Regions from separate parts of the Homo sapiens genome. Here region 1 is linked to region 2. The links come from fine-mapping of genetic effects on gene expression. Tissue or cell type: spleen. Region 2 holds a variant in brackets; the other region holds the start of a gene. All regions are shown on one strand. Distances are between the middles of the regions. Region 1 holds the start of C13orf42 (chromosome 13 open reading frame 42). Region 2 has its middle 68 kb from the start of C13orf42.

Region 1 (16,621 bases), 68 kb before region 2:
TTCCTGGGCATACTATACCCCTGGGCATACTGTATGCCCAAGCATGCAAATAAGGCCAGGTTGGCTGTGTCACTAGCACCCTAGGCTACAAGATCATCTATTTGGGGTGCTATTCATAATTATGCCATATACAAGTAGTAGACAAACTGGATGTATGGTCACTCTATGTGCAGGGATTGTTTCACCTAAATATGTTCTGAGTTCTTGCTGCTGCCTGAAGAAGAGTCACCACTTCTCATCGATGAAAGCAGATAGCCGAGGCTGCCTGTGTAAAAAAAACCACCACCTTGAAAGCCCCCCATCAGGGCAGCTTCACTCTCTGCCCCAGTGTTGACTGACTCCTGATTCTAGGGAAGACTCACTGAGGCTAATCCAACAGCAAATGCCTGGTGGCCCAACACTTGGAGCCCCACAAAGCAATCAGTGTCCTTCCATCGATTGAGGAGGTGAAGATGTGAGGAAGCGTGAGGTAGGAGGCCTGTCGTGCCCCTCTCCAGGTGTCTTCTGGAGGACTGTTGTGGAGGAGGCAGTCAGACCAGTTCCCTGTCAGGGGATAAATAGGAAGACTTTGATCTTGTGAAAAGCTAGAAAGTTGTTTTTCCCTCAATGTCACTACTCAAGGTCCAGATGAAGAAAATGTCTTCTTCATCTTATTTCCCTTCTCCTTCCTAACTCCACAAATGAAACTGAGCCATCTATCAGAGATTGTTGCTTGCCTCCCTCTGACCCCAGAGCTGCTATAGCAACAGAAGTTGGAACTGGACACAAGATCATGCCACAAAAGACCACATTTCTTAGCTCCCCATGCAGCTCTGGGTACCTTGTGAGTAGATTCTGGTCAACGGGAGGTGATTACAAGTGAAAGGAATGTGCAAAGCCTTTTCCTTCCCATTTTTCTATTGGCTGAAACAAGGATACTTTCTTCTGAGCCACTTTTGACCATGCAGGCAAGAGCAACCTACTTAGGGAGTGAGGGAGCAATGACATGGAAAGAGCCTGGGTCCCTGAGTGTTCACGTGGAGCAGAGACATCTCCCCTGGATTAGCTTCCTCTGCACTGTTACACAAGAGAAAAATAAATATGTATATTCCTATTTCAGTTATGGAAGCCAAACTGATACTCTAATATGATAGCCTTAAATTAGAGAAAAAAGAAAAAAATAGGAGGGGAGAGGAAGGTCTGGGAAGAGTGGTAAGTAGGAGGTAGGTGCAGGAGAATGTGAAAAAAATACTGGACCGCAGATATTTTATTTACTCCAACCCCAAAAGTACCATCAGTCTCAGCCTTCTACCTTGGGTTTGGAAATTCACACTCAATTTTTCTGTTGATTGTCATGTAAACGTTTGATAAGGAAGCATAAGCATTCATGAGAAGACTATATCTTTTTTCTAAAAGTTCCAATAAAATGCTGCAGTATATCACTTTAAAATGATTAAAGATAAGGCTCAGTCCCTGAATTTGTCTTTCCAAGGTATTATATAATCCACTCCTAATTATTCACTTTCCTTTTACATTTTTGGAAAATGAGATCTATTCCTACAATGATTTATGAAACTCAATTTTGGGCACTATAATCTATTTTGCTATTAGTCTTTGCTGAATACATTTAGAAAAATAAACTGACTAGGATATATAGTATTCTCAAAGCTGACTACAAATAATTTGGAGCTTATTCTTAGAAAAATCTGTTCACTGGCTGCTGTCCAATGACGTCCTCCTTACTTCCACCTGGATGGCCATCTTAGCTTCCTAAGGAAATGTGGCAGTCTACTATACCTGTGGCCCCAATGAGCCATTCTTCTAGTACTCACACCCTTGTGTAGTCCCCTCCCCTTAATCTGAGTTGGTCCTGTGATTTGACTAAATCAATAGAATTGGGCAGGAAAACCAGGGTGCTAGTTCCTAGTTTCAGCCTGAAGGCTTGGCCGTGTCCACCTTTGAACTGTTGGATGCCCTGAGCATCCATTTAAGTATTCCGGCCACCTCACTGGAGAGACCATGTGGAGAGGGAGAGGCTCCCCATTTGTGCCTAGACCCAGACAACCCACCACTGAATGCAGCCACATAAGTGCCACTGGCACATCCAACAGAAGCCCAGCTAAATTGCAGATTTGTGAGCAAATATAATGATCATTATTTTAAGCCAGGGAAGTCTTGGAATGGTTTGTACATAGTAATAGATAAACAAATAATTAGCCTTTCTTGAATCACATGGAGCTCCTACTTAAGTTTCCTAAATGGAATTTTCTCACAATTCCATTTGCCACATCATCTTCTGTTCTAAGTTTTTAACCAGCCAGGGTCACCATATACTGTTGTGTGGGTTGTACACTGTACCCAGGCACCTGCCAAGGGAGCCAGTGGGGACTGCTTACCTGGCCTTCACCTGGAGAGAGCACTTTTTCTAAATTGAGTGAAAATGTCTTATGGGCTCCCAGAGGTCTGATAACAGGCACCTTGTAGAATTAAATCCAAAGTTGTTGAACTGGCCTTTAAGACCCTCCTTTAACTGCCTGTTGCCACCTTCACCCTTCCCTTCCAACTTTCTCCAACCCAGCCTCTCATTACTCATCTCCAAGCTTGGCTTAGCTGGGTTACCCTACCTCCCATTGTCAGACGTGCCCCTTCTGCCTGATGGGCAGCAATGTACACGATGCTCCCAAATTAGGGCCACGCCTTCTAAAGGAGGATATAGTCCCGCCACCAGCCCTTTGTGTACTCAAGCACCAGTACATTTTCAGTCTTGTAAACCTCAGAGGATCTAATGTTTGCTTACAAGGACTTTTTTTTTTTTTATTAGAGGTTTCCAAGCATGTTAAAGTAAGAAGGGATGGTGTAGAGATGTGTTATTCTGCTTTTGGTCTTCATATGTGGAGGGCCGAGCCCAGGGAGATTTGGAGCTGCTCTTTCCCCAGGGAACTGTGCTTCATCTGTCAAAGATCTAAAGCACAGGACCTTGCTGTCTGAGCCAGGGAAGCTGGTCTCCAGGGAAAATTCTTTCCTCAGAATTCATAGTGCAACCAGAAAGCTAAATGTTCCAATACACTGTGCAAATGGACTTGGACTTCGTGACATGGGATACACGTTGTCGAACTTTGTAATCTTACCCTTCATTCAATATTCAACACATTTATTTGATCTCTTCCTTTTCTCAGCGTCCCCTTCTTCTTCTGTGCTCTTCCTTCGTTCCCCATCACCCCCACCTCCCTGCCTCTTGGAAGGACTGACTCAGAGTCACCTTCCTGTCAGGGGAGTGGTCGAGGGGATTTCTAGATGTGCAATTAGGGACCAAGGTGCTGATTGTTTTCTTTGATTTGGGACTCTAGATGAAGTACAGTTGCAGGCTGGTGGGATTAAAGGAACCATGACCTTGAGAGGTGTGTGCCACAGACTATCCCCGGTTACACCATGATACGAGGCAACGTCCCCAACTGTAGGGAGGAAAATGATGGGGTGCTCACCTGAATCCATGCCTGAAAGGGACAGGGTGCCTGGTCAAATGCCCCGTAAGCAGGTGTGCTAGTCACGATAGGGGGCACCAATGAACATCTTAGGGAAACTTAGCACTCTTCAGGATAGTGGGTAAAACTAGCAGTTTCTAGCTGAATATTATTAAGGATGGCCCATTTGAGCCTGTGATCTCTACAAATATTGCAGGATGAAAGGCCCCTTGAATTATAATTGGATTCCAAATATTTACCTGGAATAATAGCTTGGCAACTATATGCTGGGAACTGTGAAGTAGAAGTAGTAGTAATCATATTTTTATATTCCTATAAGTAATAATTACTATGATTGAGCAAATATGCATATTAAGTGCTCTCTATTATCTCATTTATTTTTGTTGTTTTTTAATTGTATTTATTTAAGGTATATGACATGATCTTTTGATATACAAAGTGATATGGTTACTACAGTGAAGCAAATGAACATATCTGTCATCCCACATGGTTATCCATCTCCCTCCTTTTTTGACAAGAACACCTAAAACCTATTCTTTTGGCAGAAATCTCAAATACAACACATTATTATTTGATGTACTCCTCATGTTGTACGTTAGAGTCCTAGACTTGTTCATCCTACATATCTGCACATTGCAGCATTACTCACAATAGCCAAGATACGGAAACAACCAAAGTGTTCACTGATGGATGAATGGATCAAGAAGCTGTCTGTCTGTCTGTCTGTCTGTCTGTCTGTCTGTCTGTCTGTCTATCTCTATCTATCTATCTATCTATCTATCTATCTATCATCTATCTGTAGTAGAATATTATTTAGCTTTAAAAAAGAAGATTCTGCCACTCACCACAAGTGAACCTGGAGGACATTATGATAAGTGAAATAAGCCAGACCCAGAAATAAAAATTCTGTACGATCTCACTATATGTGGAATCTTAAAAAAGAGAAAAAAAAGTCAAATACACAGAGATAGAGAATAAAATGGTATTTACCAGAGGCAGAGTGGGGGTGCAGGGAGGAATGAGAAGATGTAGGGCAAAGGATATAGTATCTCATTTAATCATTACACCAGCCCTATGAAATAGGTGGTATCTAGTTTTGGAGGTGAGAGATCCAGAGTTCAGAGGTTTAAATAACTTTCTTAAGCTGGTAGGTAGTTGACCTGTGATTCAAACTCTGAGTAAGGCCCATACTCTCATTCTCATCCTGGCCTGCCCTTCCAGTCATGAGCAACACCACAAGACCAGGCTCATCTAGGAGCAGGCAGAGGCTCAGTCAGCTCTTCTACACCTGCTGCCTGTGGCTGCCCCAGCCCAGCACTGCTACATGGCAAATCCTCTGGACTGCTCAGCCATCACTCTGGGGTTCTGCACTTTACATTTGAGAAATTCTGGAATAAAGCAAGTTTTGTTACACAAGTCACTTTATGCAGATTCTCTGGCCAAGCCTCAAGGCTCTGACACCACCAGGAAGAGGAAATCTGGTCTGAGCCCAGTGAGAAGCACATAGGCAGTGGGGCTGATGTGGAGGGGCTAGGCTGGGGGAGAGGATGCAGGCCCTTCTCTCTCCCTGCTTAGATGTTTGTCCGCATTCCACAATGTGTAAAAAGAGTCAAGCCTGGGGGGACTGATTTGGGGTTTGATGGGCACTTGTAGTTTCTTTGTGATACACTTTGTGGCTAGGTATGGTTGCTCACTCCTGTAATCCAGGCACTTTTGGAGGCCGAGGCAGGAGGATTGCTGAGGCCAGGAGTTCAAGACCAGCCTGGGCAACATAGCAAGACCCTGTCTCTACTTGAAACACAAACACACGTACACACACACACACACACACACACACAAAATACACTTTGGAAAACCACAAGGTGATTTCACACCCGTTTCTTATAGCTGAGGCTGTGAGAAAATCTAAGTAAGATACGTTAAAGGCAGTCACTATTCTGGATGAATTTCCTCCACCAGCAGAGGTGACGAGTATTTTGTAGGGAGAAAGCATTCTTTCCCCTCACTCAACTCAGTAGGAGCTCCAGGAGGGAGGCGGCTTCAGGACAGGACTGGCGTCGGAGGTGACTGACAGCAGTCAGCTGCTGGGTCATGGCTGCTGCTTAATGTCCTGTCCATTTCGTGTTCACGAAATGTTCTGCAGGTTGATGTCAGTAGAATTTTATCTCAATTTTCTTTCTAGGTCTGACCCTTGGGAAGAATCCAGCACGAGGTAGGAGTGAAGAAAGGAGAATGTAGAAGACAGTTTTATTCCCTTTGTGATCAAGAGGTTAGGTCGCTTGTGGCATTCTGGATATGGAGGTAGACTTCATTTTTATTGATTTAAACTCTCTAAATCCATGTAGAATAAGCGTAATTGTAAACCCACAGGCACAAGCTACTGAGAAAGGCTGTGTAGTCATAGCCTGTGGCTACCTCTGAGAAGAAGTTCAGTCAGCACTTACCCATCCCGGGTGCTTTGATATTATGCATGAGTCAAGGTAGGGAAGTGGTTTGGAGAGAGACTTCCCCTGGATACCTGGGAACTCGGTGACTTTATGAGTTCATTGCAGTGAGGGGGCATTGGGACCAGCATAATGGGCTGGAAGCTGGACAATTGGGTCTGAGGACTGGTTCTGCACTCGCCTGATTGAGACCACAGACAAGTCTCATAACCTCTCCAGCGCGCCCCTTCTTCATCTGTGAATTGATGACCACTAAAGATGATAATGGAAATAATGCTTCTCTTCCAAGGAAGCTGCAAATATTAAATAAGTTAGTATGTGTGGAGATGCTTTATCATCCCTAAAGCATGCTACAACTGTGAAGCTGAAATGCTCCACATGTGAGGGGCTGTGCTACCCCAGTGCTTAGAATGCCACAGGCAGAGGATGCCCTCAACAGGAAAACATTTATAATGATATTTTACAGTCATACAAAGAAAAGTATCGTTATTGTTCTGATGCAGGATAGAAACATTTAAAAATGTTTTTATTTGCATCAGAGACCTCTGAATATCTGATAAAACCGTGAATCTTTTCTTTCTCTTAAAACACACACACACCCCACACACACACAGAGCAAACAGCAAAAATAAACCATGCTAATACATTCATTCAGTAATGCTTTACATACAATTTCTGGGGGCTCATACTTTCTCTTAGCTCATAGCTTAAGAAAATGCCTGACCTAGAGACTGGTGCAGGCTTGTACTCTCAGACTGTAGTCTAGGAGAGAAATAGACTGCATAGAAGAATGAACAAAATAACAATGTTTAGCATCTGCCTGAGAAAAATGCTACAGAGAACATCTCTGGAATTCTAATAGATTCCTACAGCCCTCTTGAAAAAACAGTTTATGTCTGATGTTAACTAGTCTAAGTTAAAAATGTGCTCGGGCTAAAGAAAGTGTCTGCCCCACAAATGTGGCCACCCTTCAGCTCACTGATGCTTCTGTGCAAAAAGTCGTGGTCCGGATATCTGAATCCTCCTCCTGCCTCCACAATGGGCTGCTATCCGGTAACGGCTGTGAGGTCCATTACCGCAGGGCGAGGCTCTTCCAGGACGCTCAGATGCCTGCTCAGAGCCCAGCTTATCGGGGGGATCTGCGAGCTCCTGTCAACGCCCTGGTGTGTCCACCCTGGCCCATCTCGGGGGACTAGATTTTACCCTGAGCAACACATGATTTTTGGGTAAGGGCTGTCCCTGCTAAGTAGAATTTCATTTTGGATTCAGAGAATTCAGAACCGGAGTCAGCTCAGCCCAGGTGGAAAGGTAAAAATTCACACCAAGATCAACTCAAACTGAGTGAGACCATGGCCAGCGATGGAAAGTGAAAAGGAAAGAAAATAACTGAGCAGGCAAAGCTCTGTCCCACTTTCTTCATCCAGCTGGGGCCTTCCACGGGAGAGCACTGAAGGTATTTGCACTCAATGCTTCATAAAGCCAGCCAGGGCACTCATTTTTAAGTTCACAGTGCGCCACCTTCTATCTTCGGGTTGTTTATGGCCTCTTGGTTATAGGATGTAAACATCCCCCATGGGAGATGTGCAGGTTACCCACCTGATCAAGCCGGTGCTCCCTGGGATCCTAGAGATCAGAGGCCTCCTGGAAGGCAGATGGTGCGAGGCCTGGATGTCGGCTTCTCTCCCCGCATCTAGATCAAGTGGCGGCAGCACAGGCAGCTGGAAGGTACCCACAGAAAGAAATCGAGCACTATGTTCAGAAAGATCCACTCCATCTTTAACTCCAGCCCACAGAGAAAGACGGCGGCCGAGAGCCCCTTCTACGAAGGAGCCAGCCCCGCAGTGAAGCTGATTCGAAGCAGTTCCATGTATGTGGTCGGGGACCACGGGGAGAAATTCAGCGAGTCCTTAAAGAAGTACAAAAGCACCAGTAGCATGGACACCAGCCTGTACTACCTGCGGCAGGAGGAGGACCGGGCGTGGATGTATTCGCGCACCCAGGACTGCCTGCAGTACCTGCAGGAGCTGCTGGCCTTGCGCAAAAAATATCTCAGCAGCTTCAGTGATCTGAAGCCCCACCGCACCCAGGGGATTTCCTCAACCTCCTCCAAATCCTCCAAGGGAGGGAAAAAGACTCCTGTCCGGTCTACTCCCAAAGAAATAAAGGTAAGTGCTGCTGAGCAGTACAATTTAGATGAGGGTTTTTCTGAGAGCCTTGGGCAACTGTTTGAAAGCTTCTTCCTACCTCTGCATGGCTTAATTAATCTGACACATTCTGAGCCGCGGCGCAATAGTCCTCAGATGCTTTATGCGGCCATATCCCCAGCCTGGGGAAGGGTGGCTAAGCCCATGTTTATTACTCATTTATTTATTATTAACTTTATTTTAGGTTCAGGGGTACACATGCAGGTTTGTTATATAGGTAAACTGTGTGTCACAAGGGTTTGGTGTACAGATTATTTTGTCACCCAGGTAATAAGCATAGTGCCTGATTGGTAGTTTCTTGATCCATGTTTATTTTTAATACCCAGGAAGCAAAAAGGAGCAGGTAGTGGTGTCCACAGAGCAGCTCGGTGGGGAAGACATGGGTTTTGGTGTCAGGCGGCACCATATTTGCATTGCACATCTATCAATTCCTTCCCAGTGTTATAGGTGAGATAATGCTTGCATGGCATTTGGATGACAGCAAATCATTTTTCAACAAATTGTTGGTTTTTAAAAAATTATTGTTGTCACATCTAAAAATCCTGGTGAAAAGTGAAATCATCACATGACTAGATGTTTTCAAATATTGAGGTGCTTAGCCCCACGCAAGCCAAACAACTGGAAAATTCCTCCATCTGTACCTCAGACCAGGCATGTGGTGGCTCAGGCATAGACACGGAGAGAGTCTGTGTCTCTTGGGAGATTCCCGGATGGCTTTGGGCACTGGAGGTCTCCAGACAGTCACAAGCATGAAATGAGTGAAAGAAATAATTTGCATTTATCTCTTTGTTTATGCTTATTGCAGTGTTTTGTATATACCAACTTTTCTTGAGCGTCACAATAAAGCCAGTACAGTAGGTGGGGAGGAACTCCTTCAGTATCACAGAAGGGAAAACCGAGGCTCAGTGACCCACCTCTAGGTGCTAGGTCACCTAATTTTAATTATGAGCCGGCAATTCATTCAGTTACTCTTTCCTTTATTTCCTCAGACTTGTATTTATTTAGAGACAGAGTCTCCTCTGTTGCTCAGGCTGGAGTGCAGTGGCATGATCATAGCTCACTGCAACCTCAACCTCCTGGACTCAAGTGATCCTGCCACCTCAGCTTCCCAAGTAGCTGGGACTACAGGCACCTGCCACCACACGCGGCTAATTAAAATTTTTTTTTTTTGTAGAGATGGGAGTCTTGCTTTGTTGCTCAGGCTGGTCTCAAACTCCTGACCTCAAGCAGTCCTCCCGCCTTGGTCTCCCAAAGTTGCTGGGGTTACAGGTATGAGTCGCCAAACTCAGCCAGCTTTTATTTATTTCTAATGCCCGTAGGTTAAGGCTGTTTTGTTGTATACTTCCATCAGTCATTTTCCTGATGACCAGATGAGATGTTTGAAGCAGGCCTGTCTCCCGCTTCCTTGCTTTCTCCCCAGAGTGTCCTGTAGGCCGTGCAAACTCCATTAATGTTGAATGACTGACTGGCCCACTATCAAATCTCTAGGGCTTGGCCTAACCCAATTGGTTTCAACTGTCTGCATGTTATACCAGGTGGGAGCAGTTTAAATAATCATTTTAACTCTAAAAGTATGTCAGTGTTGGGGGCCCATAAAAAAGGGTCCTAGTCACGAGTCCTGGTGCTGACTCTGTGGCCAGCCAGCTGTAGATCTGTGGGCCAGCCACCTCTGATGACAGAAGGGGTTGCAGTGGTTTCTGGACTCCTTTCCAGCTTGGATATTCTGGGGTAGTAGGCACTGGCTAGATTTCCTCTAGGTACTACATTTCTCTGCAAATGGAGCTCTCTCTTATAGGACCTACCTCCCTTCCTTGTTGAGCTATCTGAAGATGGAGGGAATAGAAGCAGAATGACCAGTTCTAGCCCTTTGAATGGCTGTGCAGAGGCACATGGGCCTGATATAACGTAGGGATCTCCTTCGGAGATGCCTCTCACCACAGCGCAATCAGGAAAGAGTTTTGAAAGGACACTGAAGTCAATCAGACCAAGATTTGAATTTTAGTTCTGCTATTTACCAGCTGTGTGCCTTTGTTAAGGGAAGTTCACCTCTCTGGGTCTGTTTTTCTGTCAGGTAGTAATGGAAATGATAATGTGAGGAGTAGGCTCCTGCACGTAATTGTTCCTAGCACATACCAGGTACTTACTCCAGCGTTCACTGACTCTGAAATGTTGGATACAGGAGGCTCTTAGCCGTCTTTTCAGCTGCTGTCTTTCCCCATGGCTCTGACAGAAACAGCTGTATGCTGGGCCTGCCTGTGAAATGATGGGTTCAGGCTTCATGGCTGGTGGGGTGGCCCATGGCTGCCTGGGTCTCTGTGCATTGCCGGGACAGGGGACCAGAAGGAATCCTTTGCCCTGGAATGCCGTTACCCCATGCTTTGGGAGAAAGCTCTGCTGACATTCCAGGTTTAGGGAAAACACCATTCTTTCCCCTGACTACCTACTATGAGTTGAACTGTATCTCCTCAAAATGTATATGTGGAAGTCCTAACCCCCAGTACCACAGATAGTGACCTCAGTTAGAAACTAGGTGATTGCAGATGTAATTAGTTACGATGAGGTCATGCTGGAGTAGGGTGGGCCCCTAATCCCATAGGACTGGTGTTTTCATAAGAAGATGGCCATGTGAGGACACAGAGATGCAGGGAGAATGCCACGGACAAAAGCCAAGGACCTACCAGAAGCCAGGAGAAAGGCCTGGAACAGACCCTTCACCAGCACCTTCAGAGGGAGCATGGCCCTGCGGACAGCTTCTGGCCTCCAGAACTGTGAGATCTATAGCTCTAAGCTACAGAAGCTACCCAGTTTGTGGTGCTTTGTTACAGTGGCCCTAGGAAATGAATATACCCCTCTATAGAATTAGCCTCTTCTCTTCTCCGGCATTGGTCTGAACACACCTCTATTTTAGCTTTCATCACATCCTACTGTGGTTTGTTAAAATGTGCGTCTCCCCTGGTGGACTGCAGTGAACTTGGTGAGCTTGAAGCTGAAACAGTATCTTTCTCATTTTTCTATCTCCAGAGCATAAAAGTGAATACTATCAATCATTTGTAGATGCTTTATAGCCTTTAAAAGTCTGATGTCTTTTGTGCCATACAGAGGGGAGAGCCGGCCTCCATATAGGGAGGGAGCAGTGTTCTCTGTGACACCAGGGCACCATGGCAGGCCCTTTCTGCTGCCCTCCCTCCCTCCATCCGGATGCAAGCCCCTGGCCTGGCCACAGGACCTAAGTTCCCTTGTCTGTCCCTCTTTTGTGGTAAGATAGTGGCTTTTAAACTATTTTGATTAGAATCCATTGCAGTAAGAAACATATTTTGGATATTGACCCAGTTTACCCAAACACACAAACGAAACAAAAGTTTTATGAAATAGACTTACTCCTGTTCCTTGCTTAGCACTCTGATGTTTTCCAAAGCATTCTATGCTATTCTAATTTTTTTTTAAAAAAATTGTCATGACACAGTAACTTGATTTCACAAGCCATTACTGGATCAAGACATATGGCTTTCATGCTCTGGAATGAGGCTTTCTAACAGGTCCCATTGACATGTGAATGGCATCCAAGGCCAGGGTACCAAATGGTCTGTTACCCCAGCCCCCTGGAGATACCCAGAGCCTAGAAGACCACCCATGTGGGTCGATGGGAGGAGGAAGTCAGGACACACTAGAAGCGAGGTGAGCCTCGGGTGGGTCTGGGAGCCCCTCCTGGGACCCTGCATGGTGGGAGTCTCTGCCAGGCCCTGTGGCAATGTACTCCTCCCTCAGAATAGGTCATTATAAAAATGAATGAATGAAATACACTTTTTGCAACATTTTAAAATCAAAACAACAAAAAAAATCCGTACGTGAGGGTTTTTGTGTCAGTGTTGGGAATGAGCTGCAGTTTGGGACTCATTGTTTAGGTGCTAAAAGGTTAGAATTTCTAACCCAGGGCATAATGTGTGTGGCAGAAGGATGGCATGTTTGAAGTGTGTCTTGTCAAGGAATGTAGAGTCTCTGAACCAACAGGACAAGCCTCCTCCTGCTCTGGGCACCTTGGGTGTTTCTTGCCAGTCAGGAGGAGCAATGATGTTCTCCTCTACACCCACTTCCCCTGCTCCCATGCAATCAGCTGTATTCCTGACTTCTAATCACCCTCCAAACCTGACCTGTTGGCTATTAGCCTCATTCTATAAAGGGGAAAACTGGGGCTTGGGGGCGTTAAGAGATTTGTGTAAGGCCATGCTCCTGACGAAGAGAAAGCCAGGATTTGATCCCAATCTGTATCGTGCCAGAACTCACACCCTTGTCAATGTATCCACTTTGACTGGAAAACATGTTTTGATATTGTATAACCTAGAAGATGCAAGAGTGTGCACCTTAGGATGTGTACTGCAAAGGCTGTTTTATCCTGCACACCTGGGCCAGGGAGAGTCATTAGGGAGGCAGCTGCGTCATACTGCACGTGGATTCTGTGTAGGGTGAAGCCCTCCCAAAGTGGGAGAGACTGGGCTTCTTTTCTTCAAGAGAAACCTGGCTGAAAGGAAGTGGCCAGAAGGTATGCTTTAAATTGTTTTCTTTCCACAATCCGTGGATGGAATTTATCTCCATCTTGACTTCTTTTCACATGGCTACCTGTGATTCCAGTTTTACTCTAGGTCTCTGTAGCATTGAAATATTGAGTTTGTATATCATCTACTTTTGCACTTCTCAGTACACACTAGGAAAAGAACTGAGGAAACAGTGCAAGCACAGCTACAATCGGAACTTCATGATGGGTAGGTATTATGTCCTGAAATCATTTTTCAACAAGATACTTTCATATCTCCCAGCTCATTCTACAAAGTATCTGAGATGAAGAATCTATGGCAGCTGAATTAGCTTCTGTGTAGCTGAATTAGCTTCTGTATCATGTCGAAACTCATACTGTCAATATATCTACAGCATCTTTTGACTGGAAAACGTATTTTGATCTTGTATAACATACAAGATTCAAGAGCATACAGAATTGTTAAGTAGCACCAGAAATTGGAAAATCAGGAGAGAAAAAAAATCATAGAAAATCAAGACCACTCAAAATAATATGCAGATCATAGAAGCTAATTCAGCTGCCATAGATGAGCCTTAGATTTGGCTCTGTCCTTGCTGGAAGCTAAGATAAAAAGAGCTGGGCTTGTTTCAAAATTCTGATGATCTGAGAAGAACCATACCCATTGCTTAGGGGAGTGAGATTTTCCCCCTGGCTTTGAATTTCAAAATATCTCATATGGCACTTGACTTAGGGAGTCTTGTGTGATGTGGTTAGTGATGCCCTTAATAATATTTTAGTAACAGTTTATTAATATATCACTCACTTGTCCCTTAACACATATCGATTGAGCACATACTATGTGTCAGGAGCTGTTCTAGATGCTGGTGAAGAAGACAAAGTCCTTGTCCTCATGGGGGTAGTCGGTCTTGCGAGAGAGCAAGACCAGAATTCCTATGGTGATTTCTCAGAGCCCCAGCTGTAACCACACAGGGTGTGGTCCTGAACTGCATCTTAGTGAGAGACTATGGATTGGCAGCTTAGCTGAGCTCAGTAGCTTCTGCCAGCCCCTTCTGAGCCCAGGGAAGAATTCAAATGCCAGAGGTATGGATACATCACACACCCTTCCCAATGGCCTTTGTCAAAATCCTCCGAAGAATTGGTTCACCCCAGGAGAGAAAAATGTCTGTGAAAAGTAACAAGTTGTCCTGCTGTGTTTTTTGCTATTTCCACTCCACCCTGCATCCTAGCATGTTAGACAGCCGATTGCTCCCTGTGGAGTTTGTTCCAGGGTCACGTATGGGATGTGACTGGCATCAGCCTCTGTGTGTGCCTGTCTCATTTGCTTGTTCCTGTTAATTTCTTCAAGCTGCAGCCTTCTCCTGCTATGACGAGCCCTTGGGTTATTTTACTTCTCTCTTTTCTCACCTACTCATAAACATCACTTTTCTTAGCTTGGCTTTTTTTTTTTTTTTAATATAATAGCTTTAATTCACATACATAAAACTCACTCTTTCACAGTGTACAAGTCAGTGGTTTTTAGTCGATTCAGTATTGTGTAATCTTCACCACCATCTAATTTGGAAACATTTTCATTACGAATTTAAGCTTTATTTTAGTGTGGTACAATAAATGTAACATAACTTTTACCATTTTCACACAGCACTTCATGGTTCCTGAAATGAGTGCCTTTTAGTGTCTTCAGATTATGGGTAATGAAGTCTATTACAGTTAACAAATTCTTAAGAAATTAAATACTTTTCTCAAACTCCTGGACTCAGGCAATCTGCCCACCTCAGCCTCCCAGAGTGCTGGGATTACGGGTGTGAGCCACCACGCTCCATGTACTAAATGCTTTTCTTTGAATGACTTTGTATCAATTTTTTTAAAAGTAAAAGTGCATACTACTAGATATCCTTCAAAATGTTAATAGCCAGATAATAACCAGGGTCTTTCACACTAGTCTCCCATGAGCTTTTCCAAATTATCATTTATATAAGTGTATAATAATTCATCCAAAGGATTATTAAGCCCTAATTAATGTATTTTTAGGACACTTTATTAAAGTATTGTTAGTAGTACCCTAGAATACGAATTCCTTAAAAGATCGTGGACCCTCTCAAAGTACCTCATTTAGAAATCAGGAGAATGTTTTTATAAAAGGTTTGACAATTATTTCTTTAAATATGAAACAGTCTTTTAAAGTAAAATATTTTAATATTACCATTTTAACTATTTTAAAGCGTACAATGCAGTGGCATTAAGTACATTCACAATGTTGTGTAGTGATCACTACCATCCATCTCCACAACTTTTTCATTCCAAACAGAAACTGCACCCATCGAACACGAACTCCTCATTTCCCCCTTTCCCCAGTCCATGGTAGTCTCTGTTCTACTTTCTGTCTCTGTGAATTTGCCCATTTTAGTACCTGACATAAGTGGAATCATATTCATTCTTCTGTGTCTGGCTTATGGCACTTAGCACAACGTCTTCAAGGCTTGTCTGGGTTGTTGCTTGTGTCAGAGCTTCCTTTCTTTCTTTTTTTTGAGACAGAGTCTTGCACTGTGGCCCGCGCTGGTATGCAGTGGCGCGATCTTGGCTTGCTGCAACCTCTGCCTCCCGGGTTCAAGTGATTCTCCTGCTTCAGCCTCCTGAATAGCTGGGACTACAGGCGCTCACCACCACACCTGGCTAATTTTTGTATTTTTAGTAGAGACGGGGTTTCACTATGTTGGCCAGGCTGGTCTCAAACTCCTGGCCTCATGATCCACCCGCCTCGGCCTCCCAAAGTGCTGGGATTACAGGTGTGAGCCACTGCGCCTGGCCCAGAACTTCCTTTCTTTCTATGACTGATCAGTCTTGGTTTCAATGGGAGGTGAAGAGGAAAAGTTGAAGCCTGTGCTCTGCATCTGACTAGAGTGCTTGCTGGCATTTGGGGTCCTCCCTGAGGACAGCTCCCCACACTTTTAGGGCCAGAGAAACAGCAACAACCACAGGCCACTTTGAGAAATGGGTCATCTAAGTGGACCCAAGCCTGACTAGATCACAGAGAAGAGGCTTGGGAGGCTGGCGACAGAGCCAGGCTGCTGCTTTGGGGTTGGCAGCAGAACCCTATGGAACCCCATGGCTCCCACACAGTCCAGATGGTTCACATTGGACATTTTCTCAGGCGGGGTTACTTGTTGATATGACTTGACTAGGTGTCTCCACCCAAATCTCATCTCAAATTGTAATCCCCACGTGTCAAGGGAGGGAGGTGATTGGATTATGGGGGCGGTTTACCCCATGCTGTCATGATAGGGAGGGAGTTCTCATGGGATCAGGTTGTTTTAAAGGTGTGGCACTTCCTCTCTCGCTTGCTCTTCTCTTTCCTGACACCGTATGAAGAAGGTACTTGCTTCTCCTTCATCTTCTACCATGATTGTAAGTTTCCTGAGGCTTCCCCAGCCATGTGGAACTGTGAGTCAATTAATCTCTTTCCTTGATAAATTACCCAGTCTCAGGTATTTCTTTAATAGCAGTGTGAACATGGACTAATATACTGGTCACTCACCACAGTCAGAGGAAACCTCATTAATTCTCTCATGGATCCCTGAGTAGCTTGGATTTCTGATATGTCTGCCTGAATGAACTAGTTGCAAAATATACACCCCTCCCTGATCCTCATCTAATGAAAGTCACCTGTTACAAGAATGGTTTAAAAAGAACCCATTGAATTCCGAAGAATACCTGTCAAAAGTGATTGATTTTTAGTGAAAATAGTTTTATTCTGAAAATAGTTAGCTTTCAGAATAATTTTCTATTAAGGCCACTCAGCCTTGGTTCATAAAATGAGACCATATCAACAGCCTGTAGAGGCTCTTTCTCCTCTATGGCAGGAGGGTCTGAATCCAATTCATCTAAAAAGACTCCAAATTGTCTGTATATTAATTGCATATGGGATAGGAAGCAGGTTCTTGATCTGTTTTACACCATTGATAATTATTTTTCAGATCTGTTGAG
Region 2 (16,621 bases):
TTGAACCACGTAAAATGTATCATTTGTAACCTGTTGCCTTGCCAGACTGAATCCTAAAAAGTGTTTCTGTGCAGTGGTTTTCAAACCTGGACAGTCGTCTGAGGCGAGTGGTTAAAAATATATGGATTTTCAGACACTACCTCCTGGGGCTCAGGAATCTGTGTATTTATTTTGCCCTGTGAGTTGCTCTGCTATAGGCAGCCTGGCCCTGATTTTCTGCTCAGATATTTTGGGTATCGCTAGTTGGAACTAACTAAAGAGGAACATATATTGAATGCCTGCTGGTGCCAATTAAACACTGATTCCTCAGTCTCCTGCACATGGATGCATACAAGCACCTATGTGGCTGACACTTTTCATGTTCCATGACAGGTACTCCTCTTTGTGTGAGCTGGAAACATCTAACTCTTACTTCATTTCCCACATTTCTTGCATCTCCAACTCGATCTCTTCAAAATGCTTTCCAATAGTCATTTTTCTCTCTTTCTCCTCTGCATATGAGAGGCTCTGTCATCTCATTGGAAGATATCAATTGGTTTATTTATTTAAAAAAAATTCTTGGTGAACATACTGTTTTACTAAAGCAGCTTGAATGACTACATATGCAAGTGTGCACTGGCTCTGTGGGAAATGTTATATGCAGGATCGTGGAGATCAATAAACAAGGCTGAAAATCCCTGTATAATCATAACAGTCTGGGCACGTCTGGCATCCCAGCAACGTGCAACATATATACAAACCCAAATAAATATTTGACACTAAAATATGATCAGTTCAGCCTACAGGAAAGAACAGGCTGCCAGATCCAGAGATTGGTGAATGGGTGGTCCCATCAGAGGGCCAGGGAGCGCCACAGAGTTTGTTACATTTCTGACGGTCCTGGAGGTCACTTAACCCTTTCTAAGGTCTTCAGAACACATTATGACAATGTGTCAAGTTTAAACTGGGGTCACGTCCACGTGTTTCTGTTTTGCTTATAGGTGCAGAAGGAGGGCACATGTTTTCACAGAGACTTGTGGGCCCCTGGGGGCGAGTAAGAGGCAACTCCAACATGGTGGAGAGTGCCCCACTTAGGCAGCAGTGGTGGTGTACAGCACTCCTCGCCCGAGCAGGCCTACAGCCGGTTTCTCTGAACAGCTGCCTCCGAAGATGCTTAGAAAGCACTGTATAGGCATGGGCCAAAACAGGAACTCTTACAGGTGAAGGAGAATTCAAGCAGCTTCTAGTCCTAGAAGCTAGAGTCCTAGATCCTCAACTGCGTGCACAAGCGTTTCTGGGGCTGTCTGAGAATCCCCAGTGGATGTGTGTGTAGCAGAGAGGTTAAAAAAGATGGAGAAACACAAATCTTGCCCAGTACCTCCTCTATTTTACGGATAAAGAAATCAAGGCCCAGAGGGGGAAAGTGGTTTTCCCTCAGAGCTTATTTGTGTAAGGTATAAGCTTGGAACCAAAGTCTCCTAAACCCCAGCCCTGGTCACCTCCTACTCACTACGCAGCCCCTTTGTTCTCATTGTCATCACAGCTCTCCTAGGATCTGCATGGTGGTTCTCATTTTCCCCAAGCTCTTTCAGATTTGTTATCCTGTTTTATCCTTACCAACACTCCTGGCAGATAGGAAGGGCAGGTAATAATAATTGCCACATTTTACAGAGAGGAAGATGAAGTCCAGAAAGATGATAAAGAGATAGTTAAATTTAGTGATGAATAAGGATCCTCAAACATTAGAAGGTTAGGTATCCAGAGGAGGGACCAGCCCAGTCTGCATTTTCCTAAAGGGTAGAACTAAGGCCAGTGAGTAAATTCCCAGCAGCACAGTACAGGAGTGGTGTGGGCTTTGAAGTTCAGAGCCCAGATCCTTCTCTTGTCAACCGGTGACCATAGCAAGACATTTAATCCCTCTGAGCATCAGCCTTCTCAACAGTACGAGGAATGATAAGTAATAAATTGGTCATCTCTTGGGCCAAAAGCACATGCTTAATAAATAGGAGGTATTATGAGGGCCCAGAAGGGGGTTTCATTTGAACATAAGAAAGACGTTTCCATCAAAGAGAGCAGTTGGTAAGTGGAATGTGCTGCCTTGCAAAGGAATGAGCTTGTTGTCACTGGAAGCATTCAAGAAGAAACTGGAAAACCAGCAGTCAGAAATAGCGTGCAGTAAGAAATTGGACATTTAGAAAATTGGATATGTAGAAAATTCCATACTTCTCGCAGTGTCAAGATTCTATGGTGTGCTCTGGATAAGCTTGAATGCTCTGACCCCTCTCTGTTCTTCAAACATGTTCTCTGCTGCCTAGAAGCCTGTTCTCTCTGTCCAGAAGGCTCTTCTTTGCCTTTCCATCCTTCAGTCTCAGCAAAATCTCCCTTTCTTAGAGAAGCATTCCCTGACCAACCTCCTTCCCCCATTTGTTAACTCAGTTGCCAACTACAGTTTGATGACTCACATAAGGGCCAAGCCAAGGGTGCAAGTCTCAGACTCCCAGGCTAAGCCTCTTTTCAGCAGGCTTGGCTATCTGTTGAAGACTAAAGTCCATCCATAACTCCTGCAACATAGCCAACTACACTGCAAAACAGTGAGAAACTCAAGCAGCTGCTCTACCATTCAGAGAACAAGACTCTATGACCATTGAGTTCCAGTTTACTACCATATATTAAGTTCTGAACATGTGCTCAGTACAGTGCCACTTGCTGGGGGTTCAAAGATAAAAACAGGTCACAATGCTCATCCTCAAGGAGACCAGCTAGTGGGTAAGACCAACAATCTTTATATAAGTTGAGGAAATGCATAGCCTATCCTGGGTACTTGAGAAGGGGTCTCCGGGCTCAAACTGAGGTCCAGGGAAGGCTTCTTGGAGGAGTTGACACCCAAACACTCCAGTGTCTCACATTCCTTATGATCAAGAAGATTATTGTTACATTATATCTTGCTGGGTCAGTGGATATATTCCTGGGGCAAAGCTCCAGCTGATGAGCATTCACTGCACCTCGATTTATCCTCCAGAACTTCTGCAGAAGTACAAGATGCCTTCATGACCTACACAATGTATGATGACGTCATCACCATTAAGCTCATCCAAGAGGCCTGCAACATTCTGGGTAAGTATGAAAGAACTTGTTTTGCTTTCTTAGAGCTGCTGTAACAAAACCCAGTTGATTCTCATTATTTGCATTGGTTATAGTCTATAAAGCTGCTGCAATCCTGAATTAGTGAATACTGCACCATTGTTCCTAGGGGAAATACAGGGTTAGTTTCCTGAAAGTCTCTGGTCACAAGATTTTTGCCAACCAATCAATGCATAACTTTGTTTCATGTGTGCTTCTGTGAAAAAAATACGTATTTAATATACATAGTTGATTCATTCACATTGAACTGCTGGCCAACTGTACTGTAACTCATGCCTGAAGGAGGCTAATCTAACACTGCCTGTTCTCTGGAAGGATGTGACAGTCTTCTTGTGCTTAGGGACACTAGATGGCACTTCAGCCTACATTTGGGGGTCATTCTAAACAGCAAAATCACCAACAGAAAAGCAGAAAAATGTGAAAAAGATGACACTAAATAGACTGCAAGAAGGACACTTGGTTATAGTTCAAACTAAAATAAGAACATAGAGCACAGCCTTGTTCTACCTTGGCTAGAAGCATTCATGTTGGCCGGTGGAAATTCTGTGTCTGTGAATGACCTTGATAGCTCTGTGAGTATTGATTTCGGGCCTACAGATAAATAAGTAGCCAAATTTGTGAATATGAAATCCTCAAATAATGAGGACCGACTGTATCACAACCTGGGTGGCTTAAAACTACAGAAATTCGTTCTCTGTGGTTCAGGGGACCAGAAGTCCAAAATCAGGTTGCTGGCAGGGCCGTGCTCTCTCTGAAGGCTCTCAGGAAAAATTCTTTCCCTCTTCCAACTTCGGGTGGCCCCAGGCTTTCCTTGGCTAGTGGCGGCATAACTCCAGCCTCTGCTTCTGTCTTCACGTGGCTGTCTTCTCCCTGTATTTGTGTCTCTGTGTCTAAATTTCCATCTTCTCATTAGGACATCAAGCATATTGGATTTAGGGTCCATCCTAAATGACATCATTTTAACTTGATTACCCAATTTCCAAACAATGTCACATTCACAAGTTCCTGGTAGACATGAATTTTAAGGGGCACTCTAACCCAGTACAGGGCTCAGGTATGACCCTTTCCATTTGAGTGGCCTTAGGCTTCTTACAGACAAAAATGATGAGCAGCACCGTCTGCACCACTGCCATCATGTTTGGCTTCGATGTTGGCTTTACAGGTGTTGCAATACCTTTAGAATGGTCTGCTATGATTATCTCTGGGTGTCAGGAGGAACAACATTGAGAATCCGCCTATGCCACCTACACTCGTGCTTACCTGGAAATGGACGTGGGGTGCTCTGCAGTGTGCTGAGGGCCCTTCCCCGATCTGCTCTCCATCGCATATTTTCCCATCTGCCTGGACATGAAAATGCCATTGACAGGGTCATAGGAGGGGGACCATGTGTGGATGGTCCCACTGACAATGTACGTGTCCTCCCAGGATGGTTTTTCCTGTGGATGTATTAGCACTGGATTTTTTTTATCTTGTTAATCTGCTCACTCCCCAGGCCCAGAGGGGACAAGGTACAGGACAAAAAAAAAAAAAAAAAAACAAGAAAAAAAAAAAAGAAATTAGCTCTGCCTCTTTCTAGTTTAATGACCGAGGACAAATGACCTAAATAGTCACAGTTTTCTCATTGGTTGAACAAGATCTAATCTTCAGAGTTATTTGGAGGATTAAATGAGAAAATATATGTGAAAATATCATATGTGGTATCTGGCATATAATAGGCTTTCAAAAAACATTCCCTCCCTCCCTTCTTCCCTCATTCCCTCCTTTCCCTCACTCCCTCCCTCCCTCCTTCCCTTCCTTTCTTCTTTCTTCCTTCCCTCCCCTTTGTGTTTCCTGGGCTGCTGTAACAAAGTACCAACAACCAGGTGGCTTCAAACAACAAACATCAATTCTCTCCCAGTTCTGGAGGCCAGAAGTCTAAAGCCAAGGTGTTGGCTGGGTTCATTCCCCTGGAAGCTCTAGGGATAACTTGTCTCTTGCTTCTCTCCCAACTTCTGGCAGTTGCTGGCACCGCTTAGCCTGTAGACACATCTCCCCAATCTCTGTCCCCATCTCCACAGGCCTTCTTCCCTGTGTGTTCACGTGGCCTTCTCATATTGACAGCAGCCTTTGGATTTAGGGCCCACCCTAATCCCTTATGTCCTCACCTTATTTTAACTAGCTACATCTGCTCTCTTTTCAAATAAGGTCACAGTCTGAGGTTCTGGGTGGACATGAATTTGGGGGCACACTATTCAACCCAATACACCCTCGCTTTCTTTATCCTTCCTTCTCACCAGCACTGAGTACACAATGAGCCAGGGCAGGCCTGAGGGGAGGGAGGGGCAGGCAGCCTCCACCGTCCCAGGCTCCAGGGATCTATGCAGGAAGCCGAAGCCCCCCTCTGTACCCAGGATCTTTGATGAGGTTCCTCTTTCCCTTCCCGTTGAACTTCCTTCACCCATTCCTCATAGGCGGTGCTGCCTTGGGTCACTGTGAGAGTGTGAGATGGCATTTAAGGATGATCTCACTCAGACGCTGCATCAGGCCTCATGCTTGTCACCTGGCACCGGGTATAGCCCTGTTGGAAGTGTCAGGCTAGGCCCAGTCCCTGGGAGTGTGCAAGCTGGCTCTTATGCAGCCTGCAGAGGGTCTGGCAGCAGGGGCCATGGTTTTGAGTTGGTTTCATGGTGCCTCTGAGGGCCTAGCAAATTGGCTTGCCATTCTCAGGAACAATTTGTGAAATGATATAGGTTTAAGCCAGTAGCAGGTATCACAGTCATCAGCCCAGCAGGCGTGCCTGAGAACACACCAGGGCAGCTAGCTAATGCTAAGCCCGCAGGGACAGGCAGCTTCTCCAGAGCGCAGCAGTGATGTGTAAAGTGCCCGTGTCGTGTGAGGTATTGAGCTTATTTCCCTTCCCTTTGGATTTCAGAAAAATTATCTGATGATTAAAAAGATAGTGCCAGCTTTACTTGCAGGCAACTGGATCTGACAGATGAGAGGGCTTTTCCCATGGCTTTCACATGGCGCTGTGACTGATATCTACATCTCTTCTCATGTTCCTGGTCATCTCCTGGATGCAGAAGACCTTCCAGGGATCCATATCCAGGAGAGGCCCAAAGTCTCTGCCAAGCTGGGAGGGGGAAGTCATTGAGGCTGAGGAAGCTGGATGTGTGTGGTGCTCAGAGTCCTCTCTGGTAACAGGTGGTCACCTGCTTCCCCTGCCCACTCTGGGCCACCTGCTTCCCCTGTCCACTCTGGGCCACCTGCTGTCTCATCTCATCATGTTGCTCTCTTGGAGCCACAGAGACAAGCAGGGGCCAGAGTTGCCAACGAGGCCTGGCAGGTGATGGTGATCATAGCTAGGAGGAATCTGGTGTCCCAACTGGTTGTTAAAACAACTTCCAACCAGATGTATGTTAGCCCCTGGTCACTTCCCACCTGCATCTTTTGATAGAACCAAGGTTGTGTCTGAGGCTGGAAATAAGGCACAAGGAGTGAAACAGTCATTTGCTCCTTCAGCTCCTGGAACTCAGGCGCCAAGAGCAGCAACACCTCCCGGATGCTTCCTAAAGCCAGTTCCCAGCCTGCCACCACGGCAGCACTTAGAGGGAGGACACAGGCAGCTGGCAGACAGGGCTCACGTGGCTTCCCAAGAATCACGGCTGGGCCTCTCCCCGAATCCACCAACCAGCTCCGCTCTCCAAAGAAGCTTACAGAGAGAGATTCTAGGCCAAAGCTGGCCCAGGAACTGGGAAGTGTCAGTGATACCTGCAAACCTCACCCCTATCCTGTCCAGCCTGTCTTGGGGGGACTCCCAGGCCCTTTTGTCTCTCCAGCAGCTAACACCAGGGGAGGTTTCTGTGGGGCTGGGTTATCAAAAAGCACACAGCATCGAGCTTTCTGCGCTCGAGTCTGAGAGCGGGATGTGTCCTCTTTACAGCACTGTGCTGCTCCCAGGGGCTGCAGGCCTGGAGACCTGGGTTCTCGACTCAGCTCTGCTCCCCAGCTATGGCCTTTTTGTTCAACAGGTGGCAGCAGCACAGCCACCCCAGAGGGTCACCTGTCAGCCTTTATGCTTGACACACCTGCCAAAGAGATTACCTGTTTTGTTTTCTTAAGCATCACTTTAATTTTTTTTAAAAGTATGCGATTACGATGTTAAATATGCTTTTGCAAACCAGACAGACAGATCCCCTCTTGATCCTAATATGTCCACCCCACATAGGCAAAGCCTAGGTGCTGCCCTTGTGGCTGACAATTCTGCACATCTGTGATCCTAGTGAGGGCAGGAGGTCCACGAGCAAGTCCAGTGGTTTGCAATTACCTCCTTTCTTCTAGCTAAGTAAGAGGAGCATCTAGTAACCTTCCTTCCACAGGAAGAATACAAATCATTAGGTGGAAATTCTGTAATGAGAGATGACTACTTTTGAGCTGAAAATCTGGAGTTTTGACAGAGCTTAGGAAATAAAACGGCAAAAAAGCTTACAATGGGTAGTGAAATTAAGCCCACCTTTAGTCTTTTCTTGATTTTATTCCAAGGGATCCCAGCAGCAGAAGGACGTAGTGGCTGTATCGTGTAGTCTTGATTTGGTCTGAGCCCTCTGCGAAAGAACATCTCGTTGTTATTCCAGAATGAGAATGGAGGGTGGATTCTTTTCC[G/A]TCACACCAGCTGTGTGACCTTGGGCTAGAATTTCACTGAGAGTTGATCTCCTGCAAAAGGAATAATACCTTACAGGGTTGTGGGAAGGAATGAATTAAATCAAATAACAAATGTAAGGCACTTAGCAACATGCATGGCACATACTGGGTGTTTGGTAAATGTCAGCCAAATGTTGAATCTGAAGGAAGGATGGGGGTATTTCTATGTTTTGTACCTCTAGATACTGTCCCTTATAAGAAGACAGGCTTTGCTGTTCACTTCAAATGGCTGTGGTAAAAAATTATGTTCCACATGTACACAGGGAGGGGAACAACACACACTGGGGCCTGTTGTGGGGGTCGGGGGGAAGGAGAGCATTAGGAAAATTAGCTCACGCGTGCTGGGCTTAATACCTAGGTGATGGGTTGATCTGTGCAGCAAAGCACCATGACACACATTTATGTATGTAACAAACCTGCACATCCTGCACATGTACCTTGGAACTTAAAAATAATAAAATAAAATAAAATAAATTATGGGCCAGGTGCGGTGGCTCACGCCTGTAATCCCAGCACTTTGGGAGACTGAGGTGGGTGGATCACTTGAGGTCAGGAGTTCAAAACCAGCCTGGGCAACATGGTAAAACCCCATCTCTACTAAAAATGCAAAAAAAAAAAAAAAAAAAAAAAAAAAAAAATTAGCCAGGCGTGGTGGCCTGCCCCTGTAATCCCAGCTATTTAGGAGGCTTAGGCAGGAGAATCACTTGAACCTGGGAGGCGGAGGCTGCAGTGAGCCAAGATCGTGCCACTGCACTCCAGCCTGGGCAACAGAGCAAGGCTCTGTCTCAAAAAAAAAAAAATTATGTTCTGAGCTCTCTGATTAGTGGTCAGCAAACTACATACAGCTTATGGGCCAGATCTGGGCCCTTGCCTGTTTGTGTAAGTCACGTTTTATTGGAACACAGCCGTGCCCCTTTGTTTATACATCGTCCATGGCTGCTTTTGTGTTACAGTGGCAGGGCTGAGTAGCTGCGCAGAGACCATATGACCTACAAAGCCGAAAACATTTATTATTTACTATCTGCCCTTCACAGGAAAAGTTGGTCATTTCATGCTCTCAAGGGTGGATGCAGATCTTTTTCAAGATTCTAAAAATATCTTTTAACCTAAGAACTGCTCTGGACTGAATTGTGCCCCCATGCCCCAAATTCATATTTGGAAATGGGGCCTTTGGGAAATAATTAGGTTGAGATGAACTCATGAGGGTGGGGCCCTCTTGATAGGATTGGAGCTCTTATAGGAGAGATACCAGAGCACTGGCTCTCTCACTCCCTGTCACATGGGAACATGGTGAGAGGGTGACCCTCTATAAGTCAAGTAATCATGTTATCACCTTGATCTCAGACTTCCGACCTCCAGAACTCTGAGAAAATAAATATCTGTTGTTTAAGCCACCCCATCTATGGCATTTTGTCGTGGTGGCCCTAGTGGACTAATATAAGAACTTGAATCAGCTTGTATATCTCCAGAAAGAAATACTCTGTATATATCATATCACCCCAGTCCATTTTTGTGGCTGTCTGTGCTCATGTACATCAAACGGTGTGGCAGTACCTCCAGCAGTGAGATGCCATCACATACCTGCCCCACTGCCGTCACATTCCCAACCCAACCAACATGTGTAGAGGCAGCAGCCAGTCTACAGACCAATGTGTGGGCTGGCCCACATCACCTTTCCACCGAAAGCCAACGTACATCACTGTGGTTTCTCTCTGCCTAGCTTTGAATGTCAGGAATCTTTTCTTCTTGTAGTTTATTTCCATAACATCTATTGGCCTATATCTATCTGAAAGAGTAAATGAGTATGGTGAATGCATTTTTCAAACAAGAAGTTGGGATGCAAAATCGAGTGAACACATGTATGAGATGTGGAATCAGGACAGCCCCAGGAAGCCCGTCGTGATTCTGTATGTCTCCAACTCCCATGAGTCTGAGAGAGCAAGACCCATCCAAAGGAAAGGCTACAGGAAGGACATTTTACTGTCTAACAAAATATACTGGTCAGTTGAAAATCCTCCCTTTGACAAGGGAAAAAGTGTGCTTAGTCACCACTAGTGAGGGCTTTGCTTTCCATGTGGGCTTCAGAATGCAATTTCCCTACCTTGAAGCAATTGCTGGGACTTTTCCAGACCGCTCTGCCACTGCATAGCTCTGTGCTTTCCAATTAGCATAATTCAGGAGGGGACCAGATGGCAGGTTGAGCATTGCATAAGGAATTGTTCTGTATATGAATAAGTGCCTACTTAGTGTGTAAGTGGGTTATTAGTGATCTGAAGCGACAAAATTCAAAACAACACACAACAGCCATTTGGCACAGCTGTGTCCGTCTAGACTTTGCTTGCGAAGACACCCACAGTAAAATGTGTTTCAACAGTTAGCTATCAGCAAATGCCAGCAAGCCTCTCTGCACTCACATCTTTAAAAATAAGAACAACACAAAATTGACAACGTCTTGAAATCAGGCATTATAACGTTTGCTCTTCACTATTCTCCTCTGAGGATGGGACAAGTAACCCAGGCTGTGCAACCAGCCACGAATGGAGACTTGAATTCAGGTCTGCTGATTCCAAGGCTGATGCTTAATCCCACAGACTGGAGGGGAAGTCGACAATGTCTAGAGCAAGGGCTTTGGAATCAGACGGACCTGGGTGAGCCCCCTGGCTACACCGGCTCCTGATAATGTAACCTGGGGTAAATGTTCCCCTGGTAATGCAGCAATGATACCTGTGACGTTTTGCTCACCTTATTTGATTTCTTCTGTAGGACAACAACCCAGGGGGTTTCATCTGTCCTACAGAAGAAATCAAATAAGGTGAGCAAAATGCCTGACACCGAGTGGGTACACAACAAGGTACCTCGCCCTGTCCCTCACCCCTGCTTGCCACCAGATAGACCCCTGGCCCCCTGCTGTGGCCCTGGTAGGGCTGACTACTCTGTTCCAAGGTTTGACGGGAACCAGGAGGCTTCTTCTCTACCAGGCTTCAGCGGAATTGCTTCATCCCTGCAGAGCACCACCTTCCTGAGCTGCCTTAATCGACTTCCAGTTTATTTTTTCTCTGTGCCTGTATAAACTTACGACTACTTCTGAAACCCAACCCTCCTAATTTAGAGTCTTCTTCCTCCTTGCAAACTACAGCATGGACATGGGCAGATGTTTCTTTCCTTTTCTTAGACTACTCTTTCTCCTACTCCAAAATATTTCCCCATAAACTAACTCATGCCTGACATTAGTGATATCATTGGAGAAAAAGAGTATGTGAGATTCTGGCTCTTTTCAGGTATCTGAAGAGTAATCCTTTGGATACCAACGCTTTGGGGGAAAAATTACCCATTTTCAACGGAAAACTTTGTCAAATGTAGAGCATGTACTTCTCTTTCCTGTTGAAGAGCACATGTTTTGCTGGGTGACTCAGGAAGAGTGCCATGAGGAATAGCTCTTGTTGCCTGTGACTTGGGTGACGGGAGGTGGGCAGGGGTCTTGCAAGTCTGGCCCTGAGTGGGCTGTTTGTCCAGGAGGCTCTGCTTTGGTGGCTATGGTGTCCCTGCCAGCCTCACTGGGGCTTCAACAGGCGCTCTCTGTCCCCCAGCCCTGGACAGCCCAACTCTACTCTTTCCAGTACCTTGAGCTGAAACCCAGCAAGAAGCAAATGTTTCCCAGTGACAAAGAAGACCCATGCTTGTTAAGTCAGAAAGTTTGAGTTCATGCAACACTCCAATGTAAAAGCTTGTTAGAGGTCTCCACACCTGGGGAATCAAGCATAGAAGCTTTGTGACCATCATTTTCCTCCTGGAAAAAAAGTCTTGGGTGGGTGTTGTAATCCCAGCACTTTGGGAGGTCAAGGTGGGTGGATCACTTGAGCCCAGGAGTTTAAGACCAGCCTGGACAACATGGCAAAACCCCCATCTCTACAAAAAATACAAAAATTAACCAGGCGTGATGGCACACACCTGTAGTCCCAGCTACTTAGGAGGCTGAGGCAGGAGGATCACCTGAGCCTGGGGAGGTTGAAGCTGCGTGAGCCGTGATAGCACCACTGCACTCCAGCCTGGGCAACAGAGTGAGACCCTGTCTCAAAAAACCGAACAAACAAACAAAAAAACAAACGAAAAAAACCCAACCAAACAAAAAAAAAAACAACCAACCAAAAAAAACTCAACTCCTTTATTTATTTAAAAAAAATGTTTTAATACATACGCAAAAGTAGAGAGAATTGTGTACAGAAGCCCACATACCCTCCACCCAGCTTCACTAATTAACAATATTTTGCCAGTCTTATTTCATCTATCTGATTCCTCCACTCTTTTTCTAGTTTTATTTTTTCTGGAGTGTTTTAAAGCAATTACCAGGTTTCTCACAATTTCATCCATAAATATTTCAGTATTAGTCTCTAACAAGATAAAGACATTAAAAATGTACTGATAATGCCCTGATTATAACTAACAAAATTCATAACATTACAGAGGCCTGGGCTGCAGCTGTATTTCAGCTGGCCATGGATAAACATGGTCTTTACGGTCTTATTATGTAAGATTCCCTATGGTCTTTTCAGAGCAATCAACAGAATCTTTTTTACTTTGACATAATTTCAAACTTGCAAAAGGCTTACAAGAATAGTACAAAGAATTCCCATGTAGTATTTATCCATATTCCCCAAATGTTGACATTTTACCATATAGTGTCTATCCTTCTCTTTATATCTAGATTTATACTTTTTTTCTTGAAATTGTTAGTATATTGCAAATGTGATGCCTTCTTGTCCTTAAAAATTCTCTTAAATAACTACAGTACAACAATCAAACTCAGGAAATGAACATAGATATAGTGCTATTATCTAATCTATAGACCTTATTGAGAGTTTTCCAGTTGACCCAGTGATGTCCTTTAGAACAAAAGAAAATCCTGAATCATGTCACTTATCGTGTCTCTTCAGTATTCTTTGGCTTGGAACAGTTTCTGAGTCTCTTTATGTTTTATAAAATTGGTATTTTTGGAAAGTTCTGGTCAGACATTTTGCAAAATGTCCCTCAATTGAGGATTATCTGATATTCCTCATGATATAATTCAGGTTATGCTTTCCTGGCAGGAAGATCACAGACGTGATCTTTTTCCTTCCCAGTTTATCATATCAGGAGGCATATTCCATTCATTGATCTGTCCTATTATTAGTGAGGCTAACTTTGATCACTTGATTTACGTAGAATTTGCCAGCTTTCTCCACTGTAAAGTTACATTTTCCCTTTGTAATTAGTACCTTGTGAGGAGATACTTTCAGATTATGCAAATATCTTGTCATTTCTCAAACTCCCTCTTTCATAGTTTTAGTATTTATTTGTGATTCTTGTCTGAATTGATACTTATGATGGAAGTCAAATGGTGATTTTCTAAGAATATTATTCCTTTTGTATTTATTCATTGAGTTTCTGTAAGGAAGAATTTCCCCCTCTCCCCCATGTATTTATTTACTTATATCAATGTAGATTTGTGATTCTTATTTTTTAAAAACAGGCTGTAATCCTTTCCTTTTATTATTTATTTTGATGCTCAAATTGTGCAAGAGTTAGCCAGTGAGAGCCACCCTAAACTGGCCCCTGTGTCCTTTTGACATGTCCCCATCATTCTTTGATCACTTCTTTACCTTCTTGCATAACAAGATGTTATAGGCTGATCTCATCCTTTCCCTGCCCCAGCCCTGGAATCTGCCATTTCTCCAAGGCCCTGATTCCTTTTACAGGAGAAGAGCATTTAAAAACTAAGATCTAGACATTAGGCAACCCCACTGCTACTGGGATATCACTGCTTTTAGGCCCTCTTAGTGGACAGTGCTGGAAAATACATGTCATATACACACACACACACACACACACACACACACACATACACACACATACATCCATCTTTCTCTCTCTATATATATATCTATATATATAATATATATCTATATATAATATATAGATATAATATAATATATATAGATATAATCTATATCTATCTATATATCTATCTATATATAGATATAGATATATAAAATATAGATATAGATATATAAAATATAGATATAGATATAGATATATAAAATATAGATATAGATATAGATATATAAAATATAGATATATCTAAAACCATGATAGATTTCATTGTCTTATTATGTTAGATTTTCTAATCCAGAGGCACAGGGTTCATTCTATTCCTCCCCTTTCCATAATTGTAACTTCATTCTCAGATAGGGAAAAACCTGGCTCCCACTATCCACAATATATTTACTTGTTCAGAACATAGTTTCAGAATTGCTAACCCACACTGCTGTGAAAAGGAAGCCTACTAACTACAGTAAAATATTTGTTTAAAGTTCTTTTTGTTTTTGGCCTGAAGACACAGTAGTGTAAATACTATGTTCAAATATTACTGGGTTAATTTTTTTCCTGGGTGATTATGTTATTCAAAACTGTTCTGTTGAAATGCTGTTCTGTGAATTTGTTTCTGTTTGTACTCCATCTTAGGGGTTTTCTCTATCCTTGTTGATCTTATATTTTATTTATTTTAAGCATATGAAACATTAACATGACTCCCCAAACCAGAACTGTTCAAAAAGTTATGCTCAGAAAAATGTCATTTTCCCCAACTCCACAATTTTTCTAATCTTTCCACCCCATTCCCTACCAATGTCCTGTAGGTAACCAATCTCAATAGATCCAGGTTTATCCTTCTGGTGTTTAATTTTGCACAAGTAGGCAGATAGATGATTATTTCCTTGTTTTCCCTTCTTTCTTACATTAAAGAATACTAAGCATAGTATAAAGTCTCCCCTGCACTATCAGAAAAACATTTTAAGGCACCTAAGTTAGTTTAGTTCTTTCTTGCAGTTTCTAACCATTTCCTGTATATCTTGGATCCCCTATGACTTAGCGGGTTCTTGGAATCTTAAATACACTGATGTGAAACTGTATAAAAGACTAAAACAGGTGCTGATTTTTTTAAAAAAGCGGCCTTTATTCCCTGCTGGACAAGCATTCTCAACTAAGAATTCTAGAAGAAGCTCCAAACCCATTACAGGTGGAAAACACCACACTCAAACCCAAGATCCTTGTTTGGGAAACAGTTCATCTCTCAGCCAGATGTCCTTTCCTTTTAACAGAGCTGGGCATCCACAAACAAAATAACCAGAGCCTGGAACAAACAGCTTCATGGATTTTTTAAGTTTAAAGATTTGAAAGTCAAACAGGCAGTCTTTTACCCAAAGCTGCCACTCTTACTTGAATATAACTTTGCTTGGCTTACACGCAGCCCAGTCCTCCTGGCAGAGGTTCTTGGGAGAAGGGGGGCCGCTGGGACCCCTGCTTTTCCTGGCAGGTAACAGGATGCACCTGCTCAGAGCTCCAGCCTCCAGGATGCACAGCACAGCTGTTTTTTCTTAGTCTGAATAAGCTAGATCAGAGGTAACAGAGGGATGGAAGCAGGAGAGCAGAAGGACAATTTCCCATCTGTCTGTTTACCTTTTAGCAGTCCCCCTCCCAGAGACTCAAGCACTGGAAAGGAACTTGGTAGAATTTGTCTCAGATCCCCTAGGGGTTAGCAGGTGGTCCTTGAATTTATACCAGTGTATAGACAAGCCTGCCTGAGGCCGGCCAGGATGCACCCACAAGCAAAGAAGCCAACGGAGGCAATTAACACAGGCCATTACCACTGGCTTCTCTACCATCCCAAGCTTCGTCTAGATTGAGATCCGACTAATCAATTTTTGGAAAATATGTATAACTCATCTTGGAAAATATGTACAACTCATCTCTGACAAAACTAGACCAATTCAGTGGGGACTCTATCCTGCTCAGATTACAGAACAATTATCTGCCCCATGGTCTGGCTGTGGACTATGAGCTGTAGGGAAACTGCTCTTCAGACCATCCTAGGAAGCAAGCAGGGGCTGGAGAGTGCCCAGACCTCCTTCGTCTGTCCTCTGTAGGATTTAGCCCTGGATAGCTCATGAGACCTGGAATGTCCCTTGCTGTGAATTCCAAATCCAGCCAGAGCATCACAGAGTTTTTCAAGGATGCAACCACAGATACTGGTGATGGTGAGCTCTTCAGGCCTTCCATAAACCTGGGCATTACAGACATTTGCCCCAGCCCCCAGGACTTACATGTGTCACAGCCCCATTGTAAATAAGAGGGTGTTTCTCACAGGATCTCCAGACCAGCAGCATGGATGGATGCCCTGTCTCCTGTGTCAATGATGCCAACGCATAAGCAGCGCTTCCCTTGGGGAGACTCCTTGCTTCTCTCATTGCTGCTTCAGAGGCTGGGGGATGTGGTATAAAAAGTGCTAAACTTAGAGTTGGAGCCTCTTCAACAAATCTGGCCTCTGCAACTCTATGTGACTGCAGTCAATTCACAAAGATGACTCAGCCCCAACAGGCTCAGCTGTAAAAAGGACATGATAATAAGGTTAGCTACCTTATAAGAGCTGGGCAAACATTGAGTAACAGAACAGTAATTAATGTGTGTTGTCAGAACTATAAAACATTCTTTTAAAATGTTTGCTGTCTTTCCCATAAAGTGGACACTTGCTTACTGTCTATTCCAACAGTGTAGACTGGGGAGCGGGGAGGTGGGCAGCAGCTCCAACTAATGCCGCAAATCTACCTCCAGGTGTTCATCAGGCACCTATGCTGTGTTTAGCACAGAAAACGTGTAGGATCGGGTTGCTTCTCTCCAGAATTACCATGAATTAGGAAGAAAAAAAAATGCAACACTTAGGAAGAGAGAATTCAGAGAAATCTTTATGGAGAATGGAACAGGAACACTGGGCCTCACAGGGAGGTCAGGA

Evidence for each region.
Region 1: it holds the start of C13orf42, and the variant in region 2 is fine-mapped to the expression of C13orf42 in spleen (GTEx, PIP above 0.99).

What each region holds. Positions count from the first base shown.
Region 1 is chr13:51,102,245-51,118,865 of GRCh38, reverse strand. C13orf42 (chromosome 13 open reading frame 42) reads left to right here and starts at 7,592. Exons shown (of 4, transcript NM_001351589.3): 1 at 7,592-8,070. The coding sequence starts at 7,657. RefSeq lists enhancers at 5,251-6,450, 7,135-8,334.
Region 2 is chr13:51,034,692-51,051,312 of GRCh38, reverse strand. It overlaps the pseudogene GUCY1B2. Among named protein-coding and RNA genes, the nearest start is that of C13orf42, 68 kb to the left of the region's middle. The variant G/A (reference allele first, on the strand shown) is at 7,762.